Linked DNA regions of Homo sapiens: all the other regions are reported to be linked to region 2. The links are microRNA targets in miRTarBase. Many come from high-throughput screens and were not tested one by one. Region 2 holds a microRNA gene; each other region holds the end of a gene's coding sequence.
What was found. Region 2 holds the annotated microRNA hsa-miR-6812-5p (AUGGGGUGAGAUGGGGAGGAGCAGC, at 1,925-1,949, opposite strand). A microRNA usually pairs through its seed, bases 2 to 8, with sites in the 3' UTR of a target mRNA and lowers its output. Matches are read on the target gene's strand: a 7mer-m8 pairs with bases 2 to 8, a 7mer-A1 pairs with bases 2 to 7 and ends in A, and an 8mer does both.

Region 1: the mRNA of NUP42 is a reported target of hsa-miR-6812-5p. The part of its 3' UTR that is shown has no 7-base or 8-base seed match.
Region 3: the mRNA of MICAL2 is a reported target of hsa-miR-6812-5p. The part of its 3' UTR that is shown has no 7-base or 8-base seed match.

The regions. Positions count from the first base shown.
Region 1 is chr7:23,199,946-23,203,945 of GRCh38, reverse strand. It overlaps NUP42 (nucleoporin 42), which reads right to left. Exons shown (of 7, transcript NM_007342.3): 7 at 2,940-3,778. The coding sequence ends at 3,201. Among named protein-coding and RNA genes, the nearest start is that of NUP42, 20 kb to the right of the region's middle.
Region 2 is chr20:45,423,314-45,427,463 of GRCh38, reverse strand. It overlaps MIR6812 (microRNA 6812), which reads right to left and starts at 1,954; the gene lies at 1,891-1,954. It overlaps PIGT (phosphatidylinositol glycan anchor biosynthesis class T), which reads right to left. Exons shown (of 12, transcript NM_015937.6): 10 at 3,083-3,248; 11 at 2,885-2,968; 12 at 1,223-1,890. The coding sequence ends at 1,638. It overlaps LOC105372631 (a long non-coding RNA gene), which reads right to left and starts at 42. Exons shown (of 4, transcript NR_159957.1): 1 at 1-42.
Region 3 is chr11:12,262,081-12,266,080 of GRCh38, forward strand. It overlaps MICAL2 (microtubule associated monooxygenase, calponin and LIM domain containing 2), which reads left to right. Exons shown (of 28, transcript NM_001282663.2): 27 at 400-457; 28 at 1,480-1,705. The coding sequence ends at 440. Among named protein-coding and RNA genes, the nearest start is that of MIR6124, 100 kb to the left of the region's middle.

The DNA.
Region 1 (4,000 bases), not on the chromosome of region 2:
CAGAATGCTTAGGACATTGTCTGGCACATAGCAAAAACTCACTAAAATTTGAGCTATTATTGTTAAGTTTTAGCCTCCCCCCCATTAATATATTCTTTCTCTCCAAATTGGATCACACTGTACATGCTCTTTTTATAGCAAACTCTCGTCCACTGATTGCAGAATGAAAACATTTCCAAGTTATTCTCTATTAAGTCATTTAGAAAGGCTGTTTAGTATTCCAATGTATGTATCTACCACAATTAAATCATTGTTTGATGCTTCAAGTTGAATTATTTTACTCATGAATAATACTGCATAGCTAAATCATTTTATACCTTTTAGTTTTAATATCAGCTCACTTTCTCTCCCCTTTTAATCAGCTCTCAGCTGTTACCATTCTCCCCTTCTAATCTGTGATCAGATAATCAATCGAGTTAAATCAGTTTATTTGCTATACCTTATCTACAATTCTGTCACTTGCTCTAGACCTTAGGTGAAAAGGACAGCTATTACAGCAGCTGTGAAGGCAGGCTATTTTTGCCTATTTTAGGGTATGCCTCTTAGTTAGTCCAGCTCTGCTAGTCTCACTGGATATGAGATTAGGAGATACCATCCAGAAGATGCTGGCACATCCTTTTGTTGTGGGTGCCTTTTCCCTTCTACTACCTCCCTCTTGGGGTCTGAACACTCAACCTACCTTTATACCCAGCTGCTGCCACCTCATTGTTACCTGTTTCTGATTTTCTGAAGCCGCGATGCCCCTTAGCCTAGGTCTGGGAGTTACCAGTTTTCTTGACTTCTGACACCAGTATGTATGCATGGTGCTAGTTTCTACTTTGTGGGCCTCTCTGCTTTAGTTTCTCAAAATTTTTTAGTAGCCTGTAGCACTTATTTGTGCTTTTTAAAAAACTTCGGATCCTGTTAAATTCCCACATTTTTGTCTATATGGGAGCACAGAAAACAGACTTCAACAATTAAAACTCCCAAATCAGGTATTACTAAGTAGCCTAAATCCAGCTGGATAGTCCTGTTTCCCAAACTTGCCTGAAGGACCACAAGGAATACCTGTTGACATATTCCCAAGCCCATCCCAATGGGCAGCTCCTGTAATTTGGATATGTTATCTGGATATATTATTTAACACCCCAGGTGATTCCTATAATCAGGCACAGTTGGAAACAATGGGCTTTTAACTAGGATTTTCTGAGATCTTCCAGGACACTGGGAAGTTCAACTGAGACCTCAGGGAGCTTGTATGCAATTTAGAGGTAGTGTAGGGGTCATCCCGGGGGGGGGGGGGGCGGGGCAGGAAAATTCTAGGATTCAAGTATTAGTTCGAATACTGGAAAGTCTGTAGAGCTTGAGACCAAAGAAGGAATTTATGCTCTTTTTGTTTTAATCTTGCTCCTTCTAAAGGAACTTATGCTCTATTTACCATCTCTACACCAGCATGGTTTCAAATATATATCCCCTGGTTATAGTATAGATTCTGTACCAAACACTGGGGTTCCAGAACTGTCAGATGAGTCATGCAGCTCCTCAAAAAGTGTAATGGAGCCAGGCATGGTGGCTCATGCCTGTAATCCCAGAAATCTGGGAGGCTGAGGCAAGCGGATCATGAGGTCAGGAGATCAAGACCATCCTGGCTAACATGGTGAAACCCCGTCTCTACTAAAAATACAAAAAAATTAGCCGGGCGTGGTGGTGGGCGCCTGTGGTCCCAGCTACTCAGGAGGCTGAGGCAGGAGAATGGCGTGAACCCAGGAGGCGGAGCTTGCAGTGAGCCGAGATCGCGCCACTGCACTCCAGCCTGGGCGACAGAGTGAGACTCCGTCTCAACAACAATAACAACAACAACAACAAGAACAACAACAAAAGTGTAATGGAGAATGCAGGTCTTTTGAGGACTGAATCCTTTGCATACGTTAAAATCATTTGGAGGGCATATCTTTTATTATGTAAGGTTTTATATTCACTTAGAAAAATCAGCTGAATGCCAGAACCGTGTTAGTAACTGCTCTGGCAGTGCTAGCTATGCAATTTTTGAGGACTGAGAAAGCGCAGAAGTCTGATATACCTGCTTCAACTCGTGACAGGCATTTAGTTTCTTGGATCATCCATATGTAAAATATAAATCTTACTCCCTCAATCTGAGGACACAGGGAGATCCAAACATGCACAATAATTCTTTTTTTGTTGGGGGAGGGCAGGAAAGGGGATGGAGTATCGCTCTGTCACCCAGGCTGGAGGGCAGTGGTGTGATCTCAGCTCACTGCAACCTCTGCCTCCCGGGTTCAAGTGATTCTCCTGCCTCAGCCACCTGAGTAGCTGGGATTACAGGTGCCCGCCACCACACCCAGCTTATTTTTTGTATTTTTAGTAGAGATAGGGTTTCACCATGTTGGCCAGGCTGGTCTCGAACTCTCCTGACCTCAAGTGATCTGCCCGCTTCAGCCTCCCAAAGTGCTGGGATTACAGGTGTGAGCTACTGTACCTGGCCATGCCTGAGAAGATCTAGAAACAGAAACTGGTGAATCCTGACCCCACTACACACATTATTTATTCACATGAGATCACAATTTGTTTCTCTTACAACTCATCCATTTGACAGACTAATGTGATGAATAAATAGAATTCTATAAAAGTGAGGCCAAAATAAAAAGCAGCCTAAGATTGTTGAAGAAAACTCAAATGGTGGTCCACGAGACCGCCAAAGTTGAGAGGGAACCAAACTTATCGGGGGGGAAATGCCCCTATGGTTCTAAAACTAAAAGCTTGTCACTCTTTACAAACTGATTTATCTCTTTGAGAGAATCCTGAACATGAAGTCATGCTACTAATGTTTACTCTAAAAGTAGGTTAAATATTTGAGCATGTTCCCCCTAATAATTACAGAAATTATCTCCTTCCTAAAAAAAAAAGTTTAAAACTTTAAATTGTGAGACAGTAAAGTGGTATGGCATGAGAAAAGTACTTTATTCGTGCATAATTTTTCAGTTCCATTCAAAATTACAGTACAAAAAAATTCCCTTGCTTGCAGAGTTTTTGTTACTTTTTACTTAAATATTTAGAGTTAAGAAAAAAATCAAATTTAAAATCACTATTGATGGAAGCTTATATTCCTTATGAATATATACATGTATGCATATATACATCTCTGTATGAATCACTCAAAGCAATTTTAAACATCATTCTTTTTTGTATTTAAAATTGCCCTTTTAAACATTTAGAAGTTCCAGAGGTGGAGGCTTTAATGGAATTTTTCCCAGAGTAAATTTCTTGGATTGAAATTGTTCCAGTTCTTCTACTGTTAGTTTATCTCTGGGTGTGAATAACACATTATCTGTTGCAATGATGCTGCTTGAGGCTGACAGAGAAGTGGATATGCTGCTATTTCCAAAAGTGTCACTGGATGGCTTAGAAAAAGCAGTGTGAGAATGTGAGCCCGGACTACCAAAACCAGCCACAGAACTGCCACCTCCAAAGGCTGGGGCCACTGGAGCTCTGACAGGACCTGTTGCCAAGGAAGCTGGAAGTCCTGAAAATCCAGGTGATCCAAAACTGGAAGCTGCAGGGCTTTTGAATGAAAATGATGCAGCCGATGTGACTTCAGGCTTCCCAAATCCAAAAGCTGGAGCAGAAGTAGAGATACCTGAACTGGTAGAGGCTGCAGCTCCAAATGCTGGGGAACTCCCAAAACCAGCAGGGCTTCCAGAAGAGGCAGCAGCAAATCCAGAGTTTGTTTTAAAACTAAAGTTCTGAGCATTATCACTGCTGCTGTTATTGACTGGAAAGCCTACAAACAACAACAACAACAAAAAAAACAACAAAAATCTATTACGGTCAGAAAAATGTCACAATTATTTCCTCCCCCTATCTTTTTTTCTTATTTATGTCATGTTTCAGTGTTGAGAAGCTTACTGGACGGACGAGATGAGGAAAGTAAAAATGAGAGGCTAGAACTACCCACTAAAGCCTGCTGCCTGTCTTTTCTGCTAACAATCCCATTTTCACCTTG
Region 2 (4,150 bases):
AGCAGCCAGCTGATAAGGAACACGTGTTAAGTCCAAGGCAATCTGGAAGCAAAGGCGTGGGGCACGGACACGTCAAGGGAAACTTCCCGGAGGCAGCAACTTCTCATCTGGGGTGTGTGTGTGTGTGTGTGTGTTTGAGACAGAGTCTCACTCTGTCACCAGGCTGGAGTACAGTGGCGCAATCTTGGCTCACTGCAACCTCTGCCTCCCAGGTTCAAGCGATTCTCCTGCCTCAGCCTACCGAGTAGCTGGGACTACAGGCGCGCGCCACTATGCCCAGCTAATTTTTTTTTGTATTTTTAGTAGAGACGGGGTTTCACCATGTTGGCCAGGATGGTCTCGATCTCTTGACCTTGTGATCTGCCCACCTTGGCTTCCCAAAGTGCTGGGATTACAGGCATGAGACACCGTGCCCGGCCAGCCTCATCTGGTTTTATGAGGGAACCAGGCAGTTGAGAGGTGTGCATGGTTGGTGGAATAGGGCATTCTAGGCCAAACCACTATGATGGGAGAACTGAGTGGGGTAGGAGGTGGGGGGAACTGCAAATAACACACAGTTGATGCCAAGTGTGCCAGAGGAAAAGACAGAAGATGAGGGCAGTGGGAGGCAACCGCCTAAAGGCTTGTTTTACAGAAATCCAGGGTTATGTAACCAGCAAGGGAGGTGGGCGGGGCGGGCTTCAATCCAATGAGCCTGGCTTCAAAGCCTGGGGGTGGTCTGAGGACAGAGCACAGCAGGAGCTCCTGAGAAGCCTGCTAAAAAGTCAAAGTCTGGGCCACACCCAGACCAACTGAATTAGTAGGATCTGGACCCCAGGAACATACATTATTTTCACAAGTGCCCCCAGTGACTCTGATGCACACTACAGTTAGAGACCCACCACCCAGAGCCCTCCCACCTCTCCACTCTACCCTTGCTGATGTGGACTGACTCTCAATGCCCCCAAGAAGTAGGATGATTCATTTCCATGGCCATGGATTATGCTTTCAGAAACACTCCCAAACAACCCGGGGAGTTCTGGGAATCACAATCAGATGGGGATGGGGAGGACAGGGGGAGCAGATCAGGAGAAGAAATTTCCGGCCAGGTGGGAGGAGGTAGGGTTTTTTGTTTTTTGTGGAGGGGGTTGCAGGCATAGGGTAGGAGGTCCTGTTCAGGCACTCAGCAAACAATCCCCAGTCCCCAGCTCTTCCCAGGACTCAAGGACAAGAGGCAAAGAACCACGGAAACAGCCGTTTTTATTCCACAAACAGTAAACTCCATCCACTACACAGTGACATACACTGTGTAGCACACCCCATCACCTTGGCCAGTGCTGCCAGCCGACCTTTCTGTGGTGATGGAAATCTTTTTCTGTGCTGTCCAATACAGCAGCCACCGACCACTTTTGCTTATTGAGCACCTCAATATAGAGGTGGCCACTACAGGTGAGGAAATGAATTTCTAAGTTAATTCAAATTCAAATGCCACATTTGGCTCGTGGCTCCTGTACTGGACAACACAGCTGTAGGCCCTGACCTGGTCCAGGGCACTTTGGTTCAAAAGCCAACTCTGAGGAGAGCAAGTGGCAGAAACAGCCCTTGGGCTCCCCTCCCCAGAGAGAAACGGCAGCTGCAGCTGCTGGAAAGGGCAAGAATCAGAGTGGGGGGACACCTCGGGCGCGCCGGATAAGGTTGGCCAGCCGCTTGGCCAGGCCACCTGTGCGGGGCTCCTCGATGTGGAAGGTTCGGGTGAGGAGATTGTAGAAGGAGCCATAGCACACGGCCACCACAGTGCACGTGAGGCAGATCACGTTGTAGGGCATGCTGAAGTCCGGTGTCGGCAGGTTCACCAGCAGCGGCTCCGTGTAGAGCCGCACAAAGTAGTTAGAGCCATCAGAGACTGGGAACCTGGGGTCAGGGGAAGAGCGGTGAGACAGGACTGGCTGCTCCTCCCCATCTCACCCCATCCTCATTCCGGCAGTATTGGGCAATGCAACACAGTGTTTCCAATGTTCTCTTAGGCTCAAAACCTTTCAACAGAAGGCATAGCTCAATCTCTAAACCTGATAAAGGGGAGCGGCGGGCGGGGGGCAAGGGGAGGGAGAGCATTAGGACAAATACCTAATGCATGCGGGGCTTAAAACCTAGATGATGGGTTGATGGGTACGGCAAACCACCGTGGCACATATATACCTATGTAACAAACCTGTATGTTCTGCACATGTATCCCAGAACTTAAAGTAAAATAAAAAATAAATAAGAAAGAAAGAAAGAGAAAGAAAGAAAGAAAGAAAGAAAGAAAGAAAGAAAGAAAGAAAGAAAGAAAGAAAGAAAGAAAGAGAAAGAAAGAAAGAGAGAGAAAGGAAAGAAAGAGAGACGCCTGGTGTTGAGGTGGAGGAAAGGGGCCCCGCCTTTGCTTGGTTGCTTCTTTCTTAGCCTGGTTTCAGCCTAAATGCCACCTCCTAAATGAAGCCTTCCTAGATAACCCAGTAAATCAATTCCTACCCAACCTCTAACCCCATTACTCTCTAGACCAGAATCTTCCTTCTAGACTGTAAGCAAAGGGAGGCCAGGGCCAAGTCTGTTTTGTTTAATCTTGCACACTCAGTGCTCTCAGAAGCACTTGGCATTTGATAAGTGCTTGATTAAATATTTAAGAGCATCAAGAAGTAAATGTAGGCTGTAAGTAAAAGTATTCTTCTAGAAGCACTTTAAAATCATTTTATAAAGTCTTCACAAATTCCACAGACTGCCAGGATTTTTATTAGGATTGAATTAAATCTACACATCTCTTTGGAAGATGTAACATCTACCCTGAACTCCCCTGCAGGAGCCTGGTCACCTGTGTTAAGGCCCAGCAGGCAGCTGAGGATGTGTTATCAGTGAGTGTGGTCACACTTACAGGCTGTTGAAGAGGGGACTCTCTTCCCAGTCCACTGGCTTGGCTGCTACCATGCTGGGCACAAGGGCGCTGAGGACAGATGGGCTACAGAGAAGCAGAGAGATGGCCCGTGTTCCCATCTGGCTGCCCTATCAAGGGGTAAGCAGCAGAAAGGGTAGGTCAGGGGGATGAGAGGTGGCCTGTGGGGGTGGAGCCCACCTGACATAGAAGCCATGGTTAGGATCTGGCGTGTACTCGGTCCACTTCAGCAGCGCCCGCTCAAACTGGATGGAAACCTTGGTGACTGAGTTGGCCGGCAGCTGAATCAGCATCTCCAGGAGGTGGGGTTGCAGCCGGTCCTGGGCAGGCTGGTAGTGGATGTAACCTGGAGACATGCAAGGTCACCCACATCTCTTTCCTGGGGTCAGGCTACCTGCTGCCCCTGTCCCTGCTGCTTGCCATGGAGCCTCAATCTGGGTGCCTAGAAGATGGGCTTGGGAGCATAGAAGCCAGGCAGGCAAGGGAAGAAAGCAGGGGCTAAGAAAAGGGAGAGGATGTTTCCAGGGCAGTGATCCCAGGATGCGATCAAGAGAGGTTGTTAGGAGTGCTGCAGATGGCTAATCAATCTTCACATCACTACAACTGGGGCACCAGACACCAAGTGCCTGATGTGACGCAAGAAGAAGTTCACAGAACCACCTGGGAATTTTTCTTGCCAAAAATGTGGGACATGAATCTAATCAGGTTTCTAAATCTAACCACCAACACACAAGAAATATAGGAGAGGAGGGGTGTGTTAAACACTAGCACAAGGACAAACCCAGAATGTGGAACATTCTACACAACAAATGACCCAGTTTCTTCAACAAATAAATGACATTAAAAAAAAAAAAAAAAGGCATGGGCACTGCTACAGATGAAGAGAGACTGAAGAGTACCACACCAAAGACAAGACATTTATAATAAGGGACATTCTGGGTGTGGAGACAGGGAGTATATGGGAACTCTGTGCTTTGTGCTCAGTTTTTCTGTAAACCTAAAACTGCTCTAAGAATAGTCTAGTAATTTTAAAGAAAAAGAAACTTTTTTTTTTTTCGTGACAGGGTCTCACACTGTCGCCCATGCTGAAGTGCAATAGTATGATCATGGCTCACTATAGCCTTGACCTCCTGGGTTCAAGTGATCCTCCCACCTCAGCCTCTTGAGTAGCTGGGACTACAGGCGTGCAACACCACCCCCAGCTAATTAAAAACAATTTATTTTAATCCCAGCACTTTGGGAGGCCAA
Region 3 (4,000 bases), not on the chromosome of region 2:
AAATCTGAGATGTTTGTACGCTCTGAGATGTTGAACCTTTCTGGTGGGCAGCACCGACACCCAGGGGTGGACCCCCGAGGATGAATGCCTCTAGGCCTCCGCAACATATTCAAGAATGAATGGGAGACGCTAGAGTAAAATGGGGGCAGAGAGGATATCAGGGAGCAAGATGCAAACTGTGTGCATCCACTCTCGTAAACAAGTAGCTGGTCACAACCAGAAAGGTTCATCTCTCCTAAGCAAACAGCGACTCTTTCAGAGGAAGTTTCCCTCTTTCAATCGTGGCCTTATTTTCAACTCCGGTGCCTTCTCGTGATGTTAATCATTTCCTTTTTTCCCCACACTAAGCTCTCTTTTCTATCTTTCTCTCTCTTTCCAATCTTACGCCATGGCCATCAGTTCATTTCAGCCTTCCAGTGCTACACCCACTTCTTGGCTGACACACTTCTGCTCTAAGGTGACTGGTTTTCTTGCCAATTTTCAAAGAGTGGTACTAACCCCCAACCCGCTTTCCGCACCCCGTCCTCTCCGCCAGCAGTACTGGTTGCACTAACTGTGAGTGTCTTGCATACTGATGGACTCATTTGGTGGCATGGTTGGCTAACAGCATGGCGGGGGGTGTTCAGCTTGAGACCCATGCCTGTGTTCATTTCCCATGGAGCTGGCAGCCTGGTCTACCCCAAGTGCATGCCCCGCCTCTCCTCTCTCCCTTGGGTCTGCCTGCGTGCATGCTTCTCCAGTTGCGTCTGCGAAGCTACCTACTTTCTTGGGAGGGTCGACCTTGATCATGAAACAATACCATGAGGGGGCCTCTGTCACCTTTGAAAAGAACACTTTTTGAGCAGCCTCAAAAAGCTCATACATACCAGCGCCTTCTTAAATTGGCTCTAATGTAAAGATTGTTAATGTCATTTATCAAAACCATAGGTGATTATTTGGAGGGATTTAAAAAACTTAATTACTCTCAGGCCTCATCCCAAGCTTGACACATGCTCTGTAGGTTGAACACATAATCACAAATATTCTAGCAAATGCTGCCTTGGTTGCAGCCTGCACTGTAGACCCAAGGGTTTTGCTGTGGCTCTTCTTATCTCCCTTGGCTCATAAAGCCCCAGATGATGCCAGAGCTTCAATTAGAGCCATCATCATCCCAGGCAGGGATATCTTTGAGAAATGACTCAGTTCAGCCCCAGGCCCCTGTGACTCTGCTTAAAGCACACATTTCTGCTGACTCTTGTACCTGGGGCAGCAGGATAATCACCAACACACTCTTAACGAGAAACAACACACCAAGCACCGTGGAGCTGTCCTAGGCAACACTCGCGGTCTCAGGCTGCGGTGGGCGTCTGTCCTGCATGTGGCCCAGACCACCCTGACCCCCGGGCCTGCCTGCCTGGCCCTGCATGCTGCACGCTCACTGTATTTGTGCAGATCCTGGCCAGTACAAAGTCGTTGCTCTTGTCTTATCTTCTCTTACAGAGTCTCCCTCCCTTTATAGAATGTCAACCAAAGAGTGCCCTCCTCCCCTCTCAGCCTCCTCTTTAGCTAGCCTCCCCATCTCATCACAACGCATGTCTGTGACCTTTGGTAATCATTTACAGTGCCACACGGAACCCTGTATTTTGCACACAGCAAAACAAACAATGTTTAGCTTTATTTATGGTATTTGATGCTGTAAATGGAAATAAATATTGTTCTTTATAAAGCTCATTGTTTCCTCTCTTCTTTGCCGTGGAAGCTTCTAAAACCTCACACACAGGGATTGGTGTAGGGGGTTCATTTTCCCTAAACTGCTGGCGGGACTTGCACTTGAGGTAACACAGGACTCTCTGGGGCTGCGCTGGGCACTCTGAAAGGAAATATTACCCCTGGGTAATATTTGGAAACTGTCACCAATGCTCCTGGGCTAGGCTTTGGGATCTCTTTCTTGAACACTCATTGTACTTTGCTGTTCTAGATGCTGGGCATAGTGGGTGAGGGTCAGTGTCCCCTCAGCGATTAGAAGCAGACTGTATTGATGGCTACCTTTACCCGTTTCCCCCGCACACCCAAGCGTGGCTCTACAGGAGAGCTTTCCCCATGAACCTTACACTAATTTAGGTTCCTATTCAGCAAAGGTTGGTCTGGAACACTTCACGCTGGTGCACAGCTGAGTGGCAAGTGGAAGGTAAGTAGGAAGGACTGGGCATCAATATTAGGATGGCAATGAAGTTGGCAGTGTGCTCATCAGATGGAGAGCCACTGCCATCCTAAGAGACCTCTCCTGTCCCAAAGGCTCAGGGTATTCAGTATCTATGGTGTGAGGCCCTGCCCTAGCACCACCCGAAGTATAGTATTCATGGCAGGCCCCAGGCAACTCCAGGCTGTGTTTAAGGGAAAGATTTGGAGCCTCACTTGGCTATCCTGGGCAGTGCCAAAGTCATCTGGTCCTCAGCCTCCCCTGGGTGGGATGCCTGCCATTTCCTGGCTGGGCGTAGCTGGGCGTAGCTGGGCTTCTGACAGTGGTATGAAAAGTCACCTGTGAACCTCATGAGGTCCCTGGCACCTCCAAATGGGTGTTCCTGAGGCTCTGGTCTCTGATGCCTGGATCTACCTTCAGAGCTGCCTCAGGTCATGACCAAGGGTTCTGTACTCTTACCTGGGTGATATATTCCCACTTCCATTTAAGGAGGGATGTTAGGGACTGTAAGTCAGGTGCTGGGCTGTGCAAGTGACTCATTCCTTTATGCATTCATTTATTCAGCAAATGTTTGTCCTAGGCCTTATTCTAAGCCCTAGGTACAGCAGGGAACCATGCGAAGTCCCCACACCTCCCTGCACCTTAGAGATGTGGCTCAGTATTGCTGTACTAGATGAGATCTGTTATATTTAACTGTGCATGTGCTCATTTGTTTGCTCAACTCTGTGATATTTCCTGAGCATCTACTATGTACTAGGAATACAGCAGGGAGTAAAGCAGACAAAAATCGTCACTTTATTGTCAAAGCGTGACACCCCAAGTGGTGCTTCACCAACAAAGGAGTCCATGATCACAACATTTGAGGAATATTTTGTACTGATCTTGCCAGTCCTCCCCCGTCCTGGAGACTAGCAAGATTCATTAGCATGTCAAGTCTCTGAGGCATCCTTGTAGGGAAGTTTAATCAACTTTGTGAAAGTCAGCTGTCCCATACTTATGTGAACATTTTGTTTTTGTTTTGGTTTGCTTTTTTTGAATATTGCATTCTACATACATAGTTTTGGTAGACTAGTGTTTAATTCAGAGATATTGGATTAAAGACTTAGAATTTTAAAAGGAAAACCATATAATTAAATATTAAATGGAATTAAGTATTGATTAGATATGGGGTGATAACCTTCTAAGCATAAATCCTCTAATAGGAAGAACACCACACAGGGAAAACATGACACAAATCTGATTATATACATTTTTAAAACTTAATGTAGAGTAATAAAATATTAAATAGACCATTAGACTAGGGAAAAATATGAACTAAATGTAATAACAAAGAAGTTCATTGCATGGTATTTTCAAGGTTCATTTAAAACAGATGTTCCTGGGCACCTCTCATAGTGTAGATGATCAGTTAATATTTGTTGATTAAAGAGTCAATGATAAATAGGCAAAGGCTATGAACAGGCAATTTACCCTTAAGCAAATTTTAAAAGTAAACACTAAAAAGAAAAAGCAAGCATTTACAAAAGTATTCCTACTTGGTTTTTAAAGGAAGTAAATTAATTATGGTGCACATGGGCCAGGTGCGGTAGCTCACACCTGTAATCCCAGCACTTTGGGAGGCTGAGGCGGGCAGATCACTTGAGGTCAGGAGTTCGTGACCAGCCTGACCAACACGACAAAACCCTGTCTCTACTAAAAAAAAATTAGCTGGGCACGGTGGCACATGCCTTTAATTCCAGCTACTTGGGAGGCTGAGGCACGAGAATCACTTGAACCCAGGAGGCAGAGGTTGCAGTGAGCTGAGATCATGCCACTGCACTC